2 separate regions of the Homo sapiens genome follow, and region 1 is linked to region 2. The links come from fine-mapping of genetic effects on gene expression. Tissue or cell type: whole blood. Region 2 holds a variant in brackets; the other region holds the start of a gene. All regions are shown on one strand. Distances are from middle to middle.

Region 1 (8,188 bases), 91 kb before region 2:
AGCGATTTCCCATTAGGTTGGCAGGCACATGGGAGTAGAGAATGATTTAATTTACTTACAGGTATTCGGAAAAGATAGTGACCTCTACATTCAACCGGCTACAGCAGCTTAGCACCTAGCCAAAGCCTGCATCTCTCCCACCTTAGGATTTAGTGGTTGGCTAGAGCTGACAGCGTCCATGCCACATCTGTCTCTGCATTCTAAGTTTGCTTCCAAGATACAGATACAAATGCAGGCTGGCTCCAACCTAGCCAGAGATCCTAGCCCCACTCTCACCATCCCAAAATCCCTCAAAGATCCAACAGACTTTCCAGATTACTAGAGTCTCCTCTCAGGTTCCCTTGACAGTTAAATGCCCTCTTTATCTGAACTAGCTGCAGGTACCATATAATGGGTACAACAGAAAATCATACTGCTGTAAGTGTAAAAGATACGCAGCTCTTTCAAGCATTTCACTATATTACATCTAGGTTACCTTCAAGTGATTTATTCAGATGTGATTGAAGAAAATCTAAAGGGAAAAAAAAAACAATTTAATTTGATATCAGATATCCTGGCTTTATAACAAATAAAACATTTCAAGTTAATAGAAGATACAAAATATTCACTATCAAAATGTCCTCACTGACAAAAATGTTCTCAAATATTTCTGTCTCAAAGTTGCATTGTTCAGTAAGGAAGCAAAGTAGGTGAGACATATACACCAACAACATCCCTAATAAAAAACTTAGCTCATCCCTATAAGCCCGGAAGCAAATAAATCACCCTTACATACGTTAATTACTTTCCAATTTCAAATTCTCAACTGTGAAATAAAGGGCTGTTTTATTTGGCTGCTGCCAGCTCAAAATGACACATTGCACCATGTGTGGCATTTGGGCCCTGTTTGGCAGTGATGACTGCCTTTCTGTTCAGTGTCTGAGTGCTACGAAGATTGTACACAGAGGTCCAGATACATTCCGTTTTGAGAATGTCAATGGATACACCAAAAACAAGATGTTTTAATTAAAACATCTCTAACTTGAAAAATAACTATTTTGGTGTTTTTTTTAAAAAAACTGCGAATTGCAGCAAATGCCCAAATAGTTTGGGATAAACACCCTAAGGAAAAAATATACATTCAAGTTGCATAAGTCACTTTGAGCTATTCTTTGATGATATTTCATTTATATCTAAAAGAACCAAAGGTTTAGCTGGCTTTTCCGGAAAACCAGAACCAAATAATATATGGTTAGAATGAAAATCATCTCAAGCAATTTGGAAATGAAGTACCACATGTCCTATGCTGTCTCTTCCATGCACTTGACCAAATAGCCCAAATAGCCTATAACAAATTATTTGAGATTTACTGGAAAAATTCCATAAGATTTAAATGAGATGACTACTAATAAGCCATCTGCCTTTGACTCTATATCAATTTAAAACGGGTTAGGAAAGTGCTTTGAAAATCAAGTATGGTCATCAGGGAATCAGTTACCTAAGTCTTCTTAACGCTGCTTAGTGAATCCCTGTATTAATCCTGCTATAATAAATACATTCTAACCACTAAACTGGAGGGGAAAAAGGGAGAACAAAGAGGCATGTAAAGTACACTTATTTTTTCTAGTAGGAAAAAGCCAATTAAAACTATAACCTATTATTTTTATTGGAATCAGTCTTATAGGAGGGCAAAGTTCCTACTGCCGCTACCTGTTCTCAATATTTTTCTTATTTCTTCCTAAACTTCTAGAACAGTGCTGTCCAATAAATATATATGTAAGCCACATATGTAATTTTAAATATACTAGTAGCCCCATTAAAAGAAAAAGGTGAAATTAATTTTAAATAAACTTAACTCAGTATGTCCCAAATAGTAACATTTTAACATATATGTAATCAATATAAAATATTATCGAGCAGATATTTTACACTGTTCTTCCTACTCCAACGACAAAATCCAGTGTATTTAACACAATACATCTCAGTTAGGACTAGCCAGCACTTCAAGTGCTCAACAGTTACAGGTGGCTAGCGCCTACCGAACTGGACATGGCAGTTTCAGTGCATTTAATTTCTATTCCACTTAGTGCTACTTACAACTTCACCCTCTCCCTTTACTTTTATATTAAGATCTCAGTAAGTAACCAACTACAGACAGGTTCAAGCCCTACTTTACCTCTAATTACTCTTACAGCAATGCTATGAATCATGATTTAAAATTTAAAAAAAAAAACTGCTGTTAAATTATTAGTCAAGCGCCCAGGGCAATGGACAGTAAAGAAATAATGTAGGCCACGGGCCGAGATGAAAACTGTCCTTTTTATTTAAAGCTATAACAATCATCTGAAGCCAGCCCTGCAAAATGACAGCCATTGAAAAAGGCATGCTAGTTCTTTTGCCTTTTTCTGTACTTGGTCGCCTGTGTCCCTAAACAGACCTCTTCTCGGCAGGGTTTGCTCAGCAAGTCACTTGATGAGTCTTGCAGTCTACAGAGACAGGTGGGGACTGGTGGGGATGGCGGGGTGAGAGGGGAGGAGGAGGGTGAGCGGTCCAGGTGAGGAGGGGGGCAGTTGAAGGTGAAAGCAGACACCGAGACGGTGATAAGGCCGCAGTCTCTTCCTAGATCAGGACCACGCGACACCTGACTGCGCCCTGGCCACGAGCACGATCCGACCCGTCCGCCGCAGGGACCCGGACCGCGAAAATGTCCACAGGCTTCGACGCCACATAGTAAAAAAAAGTACACATATAACATTTACAGGGGCTCAAACTGCCGCTGCCTCCTCTCCGGAGCGGTCCGGCCTGCCGGCCGCGGTTCCCTCTCGATGCTTCAGGGAACCAGGACAGAAAGGTCCTTCCGCTAGCTGTCAGGTGCGTAACAATCGCTAGGCGTCCGCCCCGCCCTCCCTACCGCAGGAGCCGCAGCATCAGCAGGCGCCCGCGAACCGCGTCTGCCGGGTGCCAGGCTGAAGACCGCATCCTCCACCCCTTCCTTCCGGAGCAGCCCCAGGGCACGCGAGGAGGATGCTGGCGCGGGGCGCAGGGCACGGGGCGCAGGACCCGGCTCACCTGGGCGTAAGCAGGTCAGGGTGATGTGGCGGGCTGAGGCCAGGGATGTGGACAGCTTGACGGGCGGCGAGGCCGCTGGCGCTTATACCGACCTGGCTCCTGTAACGCGTGCGGGAAGTTTCATCATGCCTGCGAGGACCAACCAGCGCGCACAGGGGCGGGGCCGCGGGGTGTCCGGGGCGGAGCAGGACTAAGTGGGGCGGCGGAAGGGCGCAAGGAGGAGCTCTTTTGTTTCCAGCGCCTTGCGTCTCAGTGCGCCTGTTTAAGGATAGCCTCAGAGCTCCGCCCAGGCTACCTGCTGTTCTGACAATTAGGGAGGCTTCTGAACTTGGTTTGTTCTTCGGGAAATCATCACCGTTTTTTTGTTGCACTGCCGTCTGATTTATTATGCAGTGCAGAGAAAAGCTTGTCCTAAGAAACTGATGCGTGAGGCCTAAAATGTCCTTATAAGATCTATTAATAAATCGGGGCCAGGAGCGGTGGCTCACGCCTGTAATCCCAACACTTTGGGAAGCCAAGGCAAGAGGATCACTTGAAACCAGGAGTTCAAGACCAGCCTGGGAAACACAGCGAGATCACATCTCTATAAAAATTGGTGGCACACCATGGTAGTCCCAGCAACTCAGGAGGCTGAGGCAGAAGGATAGTTTGAGCCCAGGCGTTTGAGGCTGAGGTGAGCTCAACTCCAGCCTGGGCGACAAAGGGAGACCCCCATCTCTAAAACAATAAAATCTAAATCTAATTGATACATGAAGCCAAAATACATCAGTGGTCCTTAAACATTTTAAGTACAAAGATTCCTTTTAGAATCTCAAAAAGGATTTTGTCAACTTGCCTCCACAAGATGATTATGTGCTTTTAAGTATCTCTTTGATGAAGAAAAGACATCACGATTTTTAAAAAGTATCATAACACTCTTAAATCGTATTTTACTAATTACATCAGCACCGAAATAAATTGAGAAATAGTAAAATTATATGTGCACGACCTACTAAGATCAGACTACAGTCAATGCTTGGAGAGCATGCAGGTTTGATATCCCCATACAACGCATTCCTGACTAAATCAAAAACGTCAACAATTTAAAATCCCTAAGAACAGAAGATGGAGTAGTCGCTTAGTAGTTACAGGCAAGAGCAAAGATGAGAGATGACTTGTTCTAAGGTTCATTGTTGCTGGAAAGTTTTCAGTATCAAACAGACTTTGCTGTATCCTAATTGACGTACTTTAAACCTGAGAGCAATGTGGGAAAGTAGGTCTTCTATCTACATTTTACAAATGAAAAAATAAGACTCAGAAAAGTTGAGGGATTTATCCAAACACAGCTTCACAACAGTAGAGAACTGAGTCATAATCTGTGTAAACCCAGAGCCCATTTCCCGTAGCATCTTGCCTATGTAGTGAAAGACAGGTTCCCCTGCTTGGTGTGTTACCTAGTGTGCTTCCTTGTGCTGCGTATCTCCTGCTTGTCCGTCCAGAGCTCTACACTTCTCCACCTCACTTTCTATCCTGGCTCCCTTGCCCTCCTCTTTCAGGGAGAGTGTGCAAAGGCAGACATTTCAAGGAGATGCAAAAGGTGAAATTAAAATTGCTAATGAAGTTTTGGCACCATTGTCATTGATAACATCTTATCAGGAGACAGGGTTTTGAGATCAACCGGTCTGACCAAAGTTTATTAGGTGGGAATTTTCTCTTCCTAATAAGCCTGGGAGTGCTATGGGAGACTGGAGTTTATTTCACCTCTGCAGTCTCGACCATAAGAGACAGGTACGCCCCGGGGGGCCAGTTTAGAGACCTACCCCTAGGTGCGCATTCTCTTTCTCAGGGACGTTCCATGCTGAGAAAAGGAATTCAGCGATATTTCTCCCATTTGCTTTTGAAAGAAGAGAAATATGGTTCTGTTCTGCCTGGCTCACCGGCGGTCAGAGTTTAAGGTTATCTCTCTTATTCCCTGAACAATTGCTGTTATCCTGTTCTTTTTTCAGGGTGCCCACATTTCATATTGCTCAAACACACATGCTGTATAATTTGTGTACTTAACGCAATTATTACAGGTCCTGAGACGATATACATCCTTCTCGGCTGACAGGATTAAGAGATTAAAGTAATGACAGGCATAGGAAATCACAAGGGTATTGATTAGGGAAGTGATAAGTTTAGTCCATGAAATCTTTACAATTTATGTTTAGAGATTGCAGTGAAGGCAGGCATAAGAAATTACAAAAGTATTAATTTGGGGAACTAATAAATGTCCATAAAATCTTCATAATCCACGTTCTTCTGTCATGGCTTCAGCTGGTCCCTCCGTTTGGGGTCCCTGACTTCCCGCAACACAGCACAGTGCCTGGCACAAAAGAGTTGCTCAATAAATACATCAGGATGAATAGATAAATACACGGATAGGCACTTTGAACTACAGATGAGCTTAAATACTTTGTGTTTTTCTTAGTCAAACATGTGCAATTAAGCATGTGATAAATGTTATGATGACCACACGTGTGTCTTGCCTGATGTTCTTTGCAATCACTAAATGAAGTCAATTGTGCCTGTTTTGACAGTTCTATTTTCAACCTAATGATCTGTTTATTTTAACTTCTGGCTGTTGGCTTTGTTTGGGTTTGTTAGCCTGACGAAGTGGTAGATATTGGTATTTGCTCTTTTGTTTAAATGTCACGAACTTTAAAAATGCCTTTGCTTTTGGGAAGAAACCCTAGTTAGGACACCCTAGCGGTCAGGATGATTTGGGTTCTGGTGCAGTAACGACAATCCCCAAATCTCAGTGGCTCCATGCAGTGAGGTATTTGTTTGTTTTTGAGACAGGGTCTCACTCTGTCACCCAGACTAGAGTGCAGTGGTGCAATCTCAGCTCACTGCAACCTCTGCCTCCCAGACTCAAGTGATTCTCCTGCCTCCTGAGTAGCTGGGATTACAGGCCCATGCCACCACTGTCTGGCTAATTTTTGTACTTAGTAGAGACAGGATTTCACCATGTTAGCCAGGCTGGTCTTGAACTCCTGACCTCAAATGATCCACCCGCCTTGGCCTCCCAAAGTTCTGGGATGACAGGCATGAGCCACCATGCCTGGCCACAGTGAGGCTTATTCTTGGTCACGTTGCATGTCTGGGCTGTGTTAGGGCATTGTGTGGTGGTCTGTTCATTGTGTTCACTCAGGGATCCAGGCTGACAAAAGCCCCATCTCTGCATGTGTCCTTGATCACCCTTCAGGGGAAACGGAATGTGGTGGATCATAGAGCCTCTTAACACTTCCACCTGGAGGTGACTCAAGTTGCTGCTGCTGCTCATGGTTCATTGGACAAAACGGATCACAGAGTCATGAGCAACTTCTCTGTGCTTGGAAGGGGAAACAAATTTGAATAGCCACATTGATTTTCCCTAGATATTACACAGAAGGCCTCATTTAAACACAGTTACTTATTTGTGTTTTGAAGCTAATTGTAGTCCATCAACCTTCACAGAAGACATGTGCACTTCCAAGCTATTATTAGGCAATTTTTTTTTTTTTGAGACAGAGTCTTACTCTCTTGCCCAGGCTGGAGTGCAGTGGCATGATCATGGATCGCTGCAACTTCTGCCTCCTGGGTTCAAGTGATTTTCATGCATCAGCCTCCCAAAATGCTGGGATTACAGACACCCACCACCACGCCTGGCTAAGTTTTGTATTTTTAGTAGAGATGGGGTTTCACCATGTTGGCCTGGTTGGTCTGGAACTCCTGACCTCAGGTGATCCACCTGCCTCGGCCTCCCAAAGTGCTGAGATGATAGGCATGAGCCGCCGCACCCGGCCTTGAGTATGATTTTTGATTTGGAAGGTCAGAGTTAGGGTTTTAGTCTGAGGACTGTATGATGTGAAGGTGAAAAGCAGAGCTTGGCTGTGAGTTTGCTGGTATTCCTGTGCTGCTTCTACAGCTCTTTGGCTGTGTGACCGTCACCTTTGGCAAGTTCCTTTACCTTTCTATGTGTTGGTTTCCTCATCAATAAAATGGAAAAAATAATCATAATCATAATAGCTATTGGTGTTGGGATAGCCCAGTGGTTGACACATAAGGACTCAAACATATTTTTTTTTTTTTTTTTGAGACGGAGTCTTGCTCTGTTGCCAGGCTGGAGTGCAGTGGTGCAATCTCGGCTCACTGCAACCTCTGCCTCCTGGATTCAATCGATTCTCCTGCCTCAGCCTCCTGAGTAGCTGGGATTACAGGTGCCTGCTACCACTCCCAGTTAATTTTTGTATTTTTAGTAGAGACGGGGTTTCACCATGTTGTCCAGGATGCTCTCGATCTCTTGACCTCATGATCCACCCACCTCAGCCTCCCAAAGTGCTGGGATTACAGGCATGAACCACCGTGCCCAGCTCAAAAATACTATTATTAATTTTGGGGGGCAGTTACTATATTTTGTGAAAATCAGAGTTCAGTACCTTGTAACACTGAGTTGGGATCTATCCCTGAAGGAACAGGCTTCTAAAGAGGAAGGCATCGAGAGAGGGGCAAAATTTTAGTGGACGCTGTAATGACTTTAGGTATATGGACCTGGGGCTGAGTTCTAGCTGGGGCCACCAGGTAGCAAGGTGGACTTTGCTAAATTCTATCACTTTCCTGAGCCTCAGACTCACTTGTTACAAATGGGGTTAAAGCATCCCTCTTTCAGGGCTAAGATAAAGATGATTAAGTAAGAGGGAATGAAAGCAACTTCCATCAATGGTCAAAAGTATTCATTTAACTTCTTTTTTTTTTTTTTTTTGAGATGGAGTCTCTCTCTGTTGCCCAGGTTGGAGTGCAGTGGCATGGTCCCGGGTCACTGCAACCTCCACCTCCTGGGTTCAAGTGATTCCCCTGCCTCAGCCTCCTGAGTAGCTGGGACTACAGGTGCGTGCCACCACGCCTGGCTAATTTTTGTATTTTTAGTAGAGACGGGGTTTTACCATGTTGGCCAGGATGGTCTCGATCTCCTGATATTGTGATCCACCCACCTTAGCCTCCCAAAGTGTTGGGATTACAGGCATGAGCCACCATGCCTGGCCCATTTAACTTCTATATTACTTTCCTGTTGGTGGATTTACCAGTGCAAACTGAGCAGCTTAAAACACCATCCAGTTATTATCTGTTTCCATGAGCCAAG
Region 2 (8,188 bases):
GTGACTACTAATGTCACAGGGCGAGTCGGACCTGTCATAAAATTCGTAATATCCTTGCGGGAGTTCACTAGTAATTTCACAATGTGTGTACACCCTTTGATATTCTTCGTATTATCCTAAGATGTTACTACTCATGTCCCAATGCAGGTACATTCTCTGATATTCTTCATTATATCCTAGGGGGATGTTACTTCTAATGTCACACGGGGTGTACTCCCTGTGTTCTATTTCGTAATGTCCTAGGACAGTTTTACTTTTAATGACTCAGGGGGTGTACACATTGTGATATGATTCGTGGTATTCTAGAAGGATGTTACTCCTAATGTCACAGGGGTGTAGACCCTGTGAAAGTATTCATAATTTTCCAGGGGTCTATACTCCTAATGTCACAGAAGATAACACCCAGTGACATTATTCATAATATTCTAGCGAGATGATACTCCTAATGTCACAGGGGGTGTACACCCTGTGATATTATTCTAAGTATTCTCGGGGGATGTTACTCTTAATGTCACACGTGTGTTCCTTCTGTGATATTATTGAAAATATGCTAGCTGGATATTACTACTAATGTCACAATGCGTGTACACCTTGTGATATTATTAGTAATATTCTGGGGGGATGTTACCCCTAACGTTACAGGGGTGTACACCATGTGATATTGTTCCCAATATTGTAGGGGGATGTTACTCCTAATGTCACGGGAGCTGTACACCCTTCGATATTATTTGTAATCTTATAGAGAGATATTACTTAAAGTATCATAGTGGGTGTACACACATGGGGTACACCCACTGGGATATTATTTCTAATATCTTCGAGAGACATAACTCCTAATATCACAGTGGGCGTACCCCATGTGTTTACACCTGTGATATTCTTTGTAATATCCATGGTAAACATGACTGCTAGTATCCCACAGAGGGTACACCCTGTGATATTATTCACCATATCTGAGGGAGGTATAACTTTTAATATCACAGTGGGTGTACAAACTGTGATATTATTTGTCATATCGTAGAAGTATATTATTCCTATTGTCACAGGGGTTTCACATCCTGTGAAATTATTTGTAGTCATCCAGGGGGATGATTATCGTAAAGTCGCAGGGTGTGTACACCCTGTGATATTCTTCTTCATATTCTAGGGGGATGTGACTCCTCATGTTGCAAATGTGTACACGCTGTGATATTATTCACCATCTACTAGCTGGCTATTGTTACTAATGTCACAATGTGTGTACACCTTGTGATGTTATTCATAATATCCTAAGGGGATGTTCCTCCTGTTGTCACAGGGGCTGCGCTTTCTGTGCTATGATTTGTAGTATCCCAGGGGATGTTACTCCTACCATACAAATTGGGTACACTTTGTTATATTATTCGTAATATCCTAGAGTGATGTTACCCTTCATATCACGGGGGTGTTCCTCCTGTGATGTTATTCTTCACATTCTAGGAAGATGTGAACCCCTAATATCACAGAGCGTGTACAATCTGTGAAGTTATTCATAATAGTTTTGGGGGATGTTACTCCTAATGTCACACTTGGTGTATAAACCGTGATATGATTTGTCAAGCTTTTTTGGATATGTTAGTCCTAATCTCACAGGGGCTGTACACCCCGTGATATTATTCATAATATCTTAAAGAAATATTACCACTAATATCACAGGTGGTGTACACCCTGTGGTATTATTCCCGATGTTGTAGGGTGATGTTACTCCTAATGTTACAGATGGTATTCACATTCTGATAATACTCGTCATACCCTAAAGGGATGTTACTACTGATGTCACAATGCACGTACACAATCTGATATTATTTCTTATATCCTCGGGCAATGTTGCTTCTAATGTCACATGGGGTGTACACTTTTTGATTTTATTCGTCATATTTTAGAAAGATGTTACTCCTAATGTCACAGAGGGTGTACGCCCTGTGAAGTTATTCATAATAATTTTGGAGGCTGGGACTCCTAATGTCACCCGTGGTGTACAAACAGTGATATTATTCGTAATATTTTATGGAAATGTTACTCCAAATGTCGCAGGGGCCTTACACCTTGTAATATTATTCATCATAACCTAATGAAATGTTACCTCTAATGTCACAGGGGGTGTACACCGTATGATATGGTGCCCAATATTGTAGGGGGATGTTACTCCTAATATTACAGGGGGCGTTCACACTGTGATAATATTCGTAATATCCTAAATGGATGTTAATGCTAGTGACACGACGCGTGTACATCCTCTGTATTTGTTCGTTATATCCTCGGGGGAGGTTTCTCCTACTGTCACATGGGGTGTACTCTCTGTGATATTATTCAGAATATCCTAGGTGGATGTTACTCCTCGTGTCACAGGGGCTGTGCATTCATTTTGTGATGTTATTCACAATGTCCTAGAAGGATGTTACTCCTCAGGTCACAGGGGATGTACACCCTGTGATATTATTCATACTATCCTAGGGGATGTTACTCCAAATGTCACAGAAGGTGTACACTCTGTGATATTACTTGCAATGTGCCAGGGAAATGTACTCCTAATGTCACAGGGCATGTGCACCATGTGTGCACAGCCCCTGTGATGTTATTTGTAATATTCTTGAGGGATGTTAATCCTAATATTCCATATGCTGTTAACCATGTGTGAACACCTTTGTGGTATTATTCCTAACATACTAGAAAGATGTAACTCCTAACATCACGTGGGGTATAGGCCATGTGCGTACACCTTCTGTGATATTATTCATAACATCGTAGGGAGATGCTACTCCTAATTTTACAAGGTGCGTACATTATGTGTGTACACCCCCTCTGATGGTATTCGTAATATTCTAGGGGAATGTTGCTGCTAATGTCACAGGGAGAGTACACCATGTGTATGCAACCCTGGTAATATTATTTCTAATATCTTGGGGGGGTGTTGCTCCTAATGTCACCTGGAGTGTACAGCATGTGTGTACACCTTCTGTGATATTCATAAATCACAGAAAAAGATTACGCCTAATGTAACAGGATGTGTACACCGTGTGCATCAACCGCCTTTGATATTATTCGTAATATACTAGGGGGCTGTGACTTTGAATGTCACAAAGAGTGTACAAAATGTCACAGGGTGTGTATGCCTCATGATATGATTCCTGATATCCAGAAGGATGTTACTCCTAAGGTCACGGGGGTGCACACACTTCGATAATATTTGTAGTCTTATAGGGAGATTTTACTGTAAATCTCACAGTGGGTGTACACTATGTACACTATGTGTAGACTGTGATATTATTTGTAATATCTCAGATACTACAGAGTTATAGCTCTCCGTGTTATATTAGAATTATATCTAAGACAGTACAAATAATACCACAGTGGGTGTACCTCATGTGTGTACACCCTGTGATATTATTTGTAATATCCATGGTAAACATTACATCTAATATCACAGAGAGTGTTCTCCCTTTGATATTTCTCATACTCTCATAGGGAGATATTGCTTTTAATGTCGCAGTGGGTGTACACCATGCGTGTACATTCTGTGATACACCTTATATCCTAGGGAGATATCTCTCCGAATATCAGTGTGTGTACGCCTTGTGATATTCTTCATATCCTAGAAGGATGTTACTCCTAATAAGACAGAGGGCGTACACCCAGTGATGTTCTTTGTAATATCCTAGGGAGATGTTACTCCTAATGTCACACGGGGTGTACACCCATGATATTATTCCTAATATTCTAGGGGGATGTTACTTTTAAAGTCACAGGGGGCGTACACCCTGTGAGGTTGTTCGTAATATCCTAAGAAGATGTTGCTCTTAATGTCACATGGGGTGTACACCCTGTGATATTACTCGGAATATCTTATGGGGATGCTACTCCTAACGTCACAGGCTGTGTACACCCTGTGATGCTATTCGGAATAGCCACAGAGATGTTACTTTTGATGTCACAGACAGGGTCCACCCTTTGATTTTTTTATCATCTTAGGGAGATATGACTTCAAATATCACAGTGGGTGTACACCCACTGTGATGTTATTCGGAATACCCTAGGGAGATATAACTTTTAATATCACCGTGGGCGTACATACTATTTGTGTACACCTACTGTGATATTATTCCTAATATCCTAAAAATAAATAGGACTCCTAATATCACAGTTGGTGTACACACTGTGATATGAGTCGTAATATTCCAACAGGATGTTACTCCTCAGGTCACAGGTGGTTAATACCCTGGGACAGTATTCCTCATATTCCAGGGCGCTGATACTCCTAAAGTCACAGGGTGTGTACCCCCTGTGATATTATTCCTCCTATTCAAGGGGGATGTTACTCCTAATGTCACAGGGATGTACACCCTGTGATATTATTCATAGTATACCAGAGGGATATTAGTACGAATGTCACAATGCGTGTACATCTTGGCATATCATTCGTATTATCCTAATGTCACAGGGGGTGTGTTCCCTGTGACATTATTCCTAATATCCTAGACGGCTATTTCTCCTAACATTACAGGGTGTGTACACCTTGTCATATCATTCATAATATCCTAAAACTACGTTATTCCTCATGTCACAGAGGGTGTTCACCTTGTGATATTATT[C/T]GTAATTGTTTTGTGGGATGTTACTCCTAATGTCATACAGGGTGTACACAGAGTCACACAGTGCTATGACGTGTAATATTATATAGAAATGTTACTCGTAAATCACAGGGGCTGTACCTCCTGTGATATTATTCGTCATATTCTAGGGGAATGTTACTATTGTCACAGGGGGTGTACACCCTGTGACATTACTCGTCATATCCTAGCGGGATGTTACTACCAATGTCACAATGCGTGTACACCCTGTGATACGATTTATAATATCCTAGAGACGTTACTAAGGTCACAATGCATGTACACCCTCTGATATTATTCATCATATCCTCGGGGGATGTCACTTTTAATGTCACATGGGGTGTACTCCCTGTGATATTATTCATAATATCCTAAGGGCTTGTTACTTTTAATGTCACCAGGGGTGTATATCATGCATATTCAACACCTGTGATACTATTCCTAATATCCTAGGGGCATGTTCCTCCTAATGTCACATGGGGTGTACACCATGTGTGTACACCTGCTGTGGTATTATTCATAATATCCTAGGGGAATGTTACTCCTGATGGCACAGACGGTGTACACCGTGTGTGTACACCGCCTGTCATTACTCGTAATATCCTAGGGGGATGTTTCTTTCAATGTCACAAAGGGTGTACAAAATGTCACAAAATGTGTTCACCTTGTGACGTTATCTGTAATACCCTGGAAGGACGTTACTCCTAATAGGTCACGGGGGTGTACACCTTTTGATATTATTTGTAATCTCATAGAGAGATATGACTTGAAATATCAGTGGATGTACACACATAGTGTATACCCTGTGATATGATTCATAATATCCTAGGGAGATACAACTCCTGATATCACAGTGCGTGTACCCCGGGTGTGTACACCCTTGATGTTAATCATAATATCCAGGGTAAAGATTACTCCTAAGATCACACAGTGGGCATACCCTGTGATAATTTTCATCATATTATAGGGAGATATTGCTTCTAATATCACAGTGGTTATACCCCTTTTGTGTATACTGTGTGACAGTATTCTTTATATCCTAGGGAGGTATTACTCCTAATATCACAGTAGGTGTTCACCCTGTGTTATCATTATTTGACCTTGCTGCCTTTTTGAACCCACACTACAAAGGAATGGAACAGATAAGATATTGAGATTAGACTGTGCTGCCGTGCGGCTGCCGCAGGACACCTTTCATATCCCTGTTTCTCAGGCTGTAGATGAAGGGGGTCAGCATGGGGGTGACCAGTGTGTACATCACTGAGGCCACTGCACCCTTTCTGGGGGAAGATGACACATCTGAACTGAGGTACCCTCCAACGCCTGTTCCATAAACTCAGCAAACAACTGACAGGCGAGACCCACAGGTGGAGAGGGCTTTATACTTCCCACCTGATGAAGAAACCCTCAGAATGGAGGAAACAATTTTAGAGAAAGAGAAAAGGGTCCCCAAGATGGGAAGAAAACCAAATATGGCAGCAGGGAAATACATGATTATGTTAATGGTGAAGGTGTCACAACATGCAAGATGGGAGAGTTGAGAAGGGTCACAGAAGAAATTAGGAATTTCCACATCCTTGAAGCAGGTCACTTGTAAGGCAATCAAGTTGTGCAGCTGGGAGTCTAAAAGACTGAGAAAAAAAAAGACAACAAAACTAGAAAGGCACAGAAACACGGGTTCATGATGGTGAATGATATAGCGGGTGACAGATGGCTACAAACCAGTCATAGGCCATCACACTCAGGAGCATGTCTCTCTTCCATGCCTCCAAAAATGGCAAAGAGAGACATCTGAGTCAGGCAGCCTGCATAGGAGATGACTCTGCTGTGAGACTGGATGTCCACAATCATCTTGGGGACCGTGGTGGAGGTGAAACCGATGTCAGGCAAGGACAGGTTGGAGAGGAAGAAGTACATGGGGGTGTGGAGGTGGGAGTCAGGGCTGATGGCCAGGATGATGAGCAGGTTCCCCAGCACCGTGACCAGGCACATGGACAGGAACAGCCCAGCAAGGACTGGCTGCAGTTCTGGATCCCCTGAGACTTCTAGGAGGAGGAATATAGAGACATCTGTTAGATTCTGTGGGTCTGCATAATTTGGACACCTTTGCCTAGAAACGAGGGTTGAAAAATGGGAAACAAGTAAACCAACACCTGGCATTGTGTCTGCATTTTGAATAGAAGCAATTCACAAGTAATGTTTTCAGATTTCAGAGCAATCCACACTCAGCAATATTTTGCAGTTCTGACAGACTCAATTGTCTTCTAATGCTTTCATCATTGATTTCTGTGTTATTCACTTCTTGCTGTACACACCTGCCTTAGAGACACTAGATTCAAGAATGTTCCAAGAACCAGATCATCATACATAACAAATTCGTAACTGCTAGAAAATACAGCCTATCTTTTCCGAAGAAAACTATGTAATAAAACCATTCTCTTCACTTGAAGAAAAAGGTTATCCTAATTAAAGGAAATTAAGAACTCAAATATTTTATTCTACTAGATTGATGAATTCCCTTGATTTAGAACATTTATAAACACTGTAGAACAGCTGAGACCATGTCATCTGGAAATGAAATTAAAGTTGATAGTTCATAAGCAGAAAATAATTCCACATGCCAGTTAGGTCCTAGTGATTTCATCATTATGTTTTCTGACTTTTCTCCTTCAAGAGAGTAATTGCTTACTCAAATCGGTGGGTCTGGTTTTAAAATTCATGGAAGCTGTAACTCCTGTCCTTAGCTTAGGTGGACTTAGAGTTTTCATCAGAAAGTTTGGCCAGATGCGGTGGCTCACGCCTGTAGTCCCAGCACTTTGGGAGGCTGAGGAGGGCGGATCACGGGGTCAGGAGATCAAGACCATCCTGGCCAACATGGCGAAACCCCGCCTCTACTGAAAATACAAAAACTTCGCCCGGTATGGTGATGCGCGCCTGTAGTCCCAGCTACTCGGGAAGCTGAGGCGGGAGAATGGCTTGAACCTGGGACGCAGAGGCTACAGTGAGCCGAGATCACACCACTGCACTCCAGCCTGGGCAACAAGAGCAAAACTCCGTCTCAAAAAACAAAAAAACAAGAGGAATCAAGTAAGTCAAAGTTACACTTATGACAGCCAATTTTTGTGAACCAAGGAAGTGTGAATTCAAGAATTCACATAGATGTTGACTTTGGCTATCTCCTATGTGCCAAGCAAGATATAGGCTCTAGGGAATTATTAATTCAGCTTATTAAATCTCCCAGTTCTTTTCAATACAGAGACTATTTACATGAGAAAACTTAAGTTAAAAATATGTTACAAAAACTACCATTAAGTGATGTTGTCTCATTTATGAAACCACCTAATTGCTTTAGGCATCTTTCAAAAATTTCAACTTATCCTGAAGTTTCAATTTACATACAGAATATCACCCACATTTTTGTTATTTTTCAGTTTCCTCTCAATGAATGGAATCATCAAACTTTTTATCCTTTTTTTTTTTTGAGATGGAATCTCGCTCTGTTGCCCAGGGTAGAGTGCAGTGGCGCAATCACAGTTCACTGCAGCCTCGACCTCTGAGGCTCAAGC

The links. PIP is the estimated chance that this variant, and not a neighbour inherited with it, causes the effect.
Region 1: ASNS starts here. The variant in region 2 is the best candidate, but not a certain one, in a credible set for the expression of ASNS in whole blood (TOPMed, PIP 0.58).

What each region holds. Positions count from the first base shown.
Region 1 is chr7:97,869,303-97,877,490 of GRCh38, forward strand. ASNS (asparagine synthetase (glutamine-hydrolyzing)) reads right to left here and starts at 3,106. Exons shown (of 13, transcript NM_001673.5): 1 at 3,049-3,106; 2 at 476-511. CZ1P-ASNS (CZ1P-ASNS readthrough) reads right to left here. Exons shown (of 19, transcript NR_147989.1): 8 at 476-511. RefSeq lists silencers at 2,828-2,937, 3,248-3,337 and an enhancer at 2,987-3,702.
Region 2 is chr7:97,960,311-97,968,498 of GRCh38, forward strand. All of the region lies in intron 1 of CZ1P-ASNS (CZ1P-ASNS readthrough), which reads right to left. It overlaps MIR5692A1 (microRNA 5692a-1), which reads left to right and starts at 3,348; the gene lies at 3,348-3,416. MIR5692C2 (microRNA 5692c-2) reads right to left here and starts at 4,171; the gene lies at 4,095-4,171. It also overlaps the pseudogene OR7E38P and the pseudogene CCZ1P-OR7E38P. The variant C/T (reference allele first, on the strand shown) is at 4,608.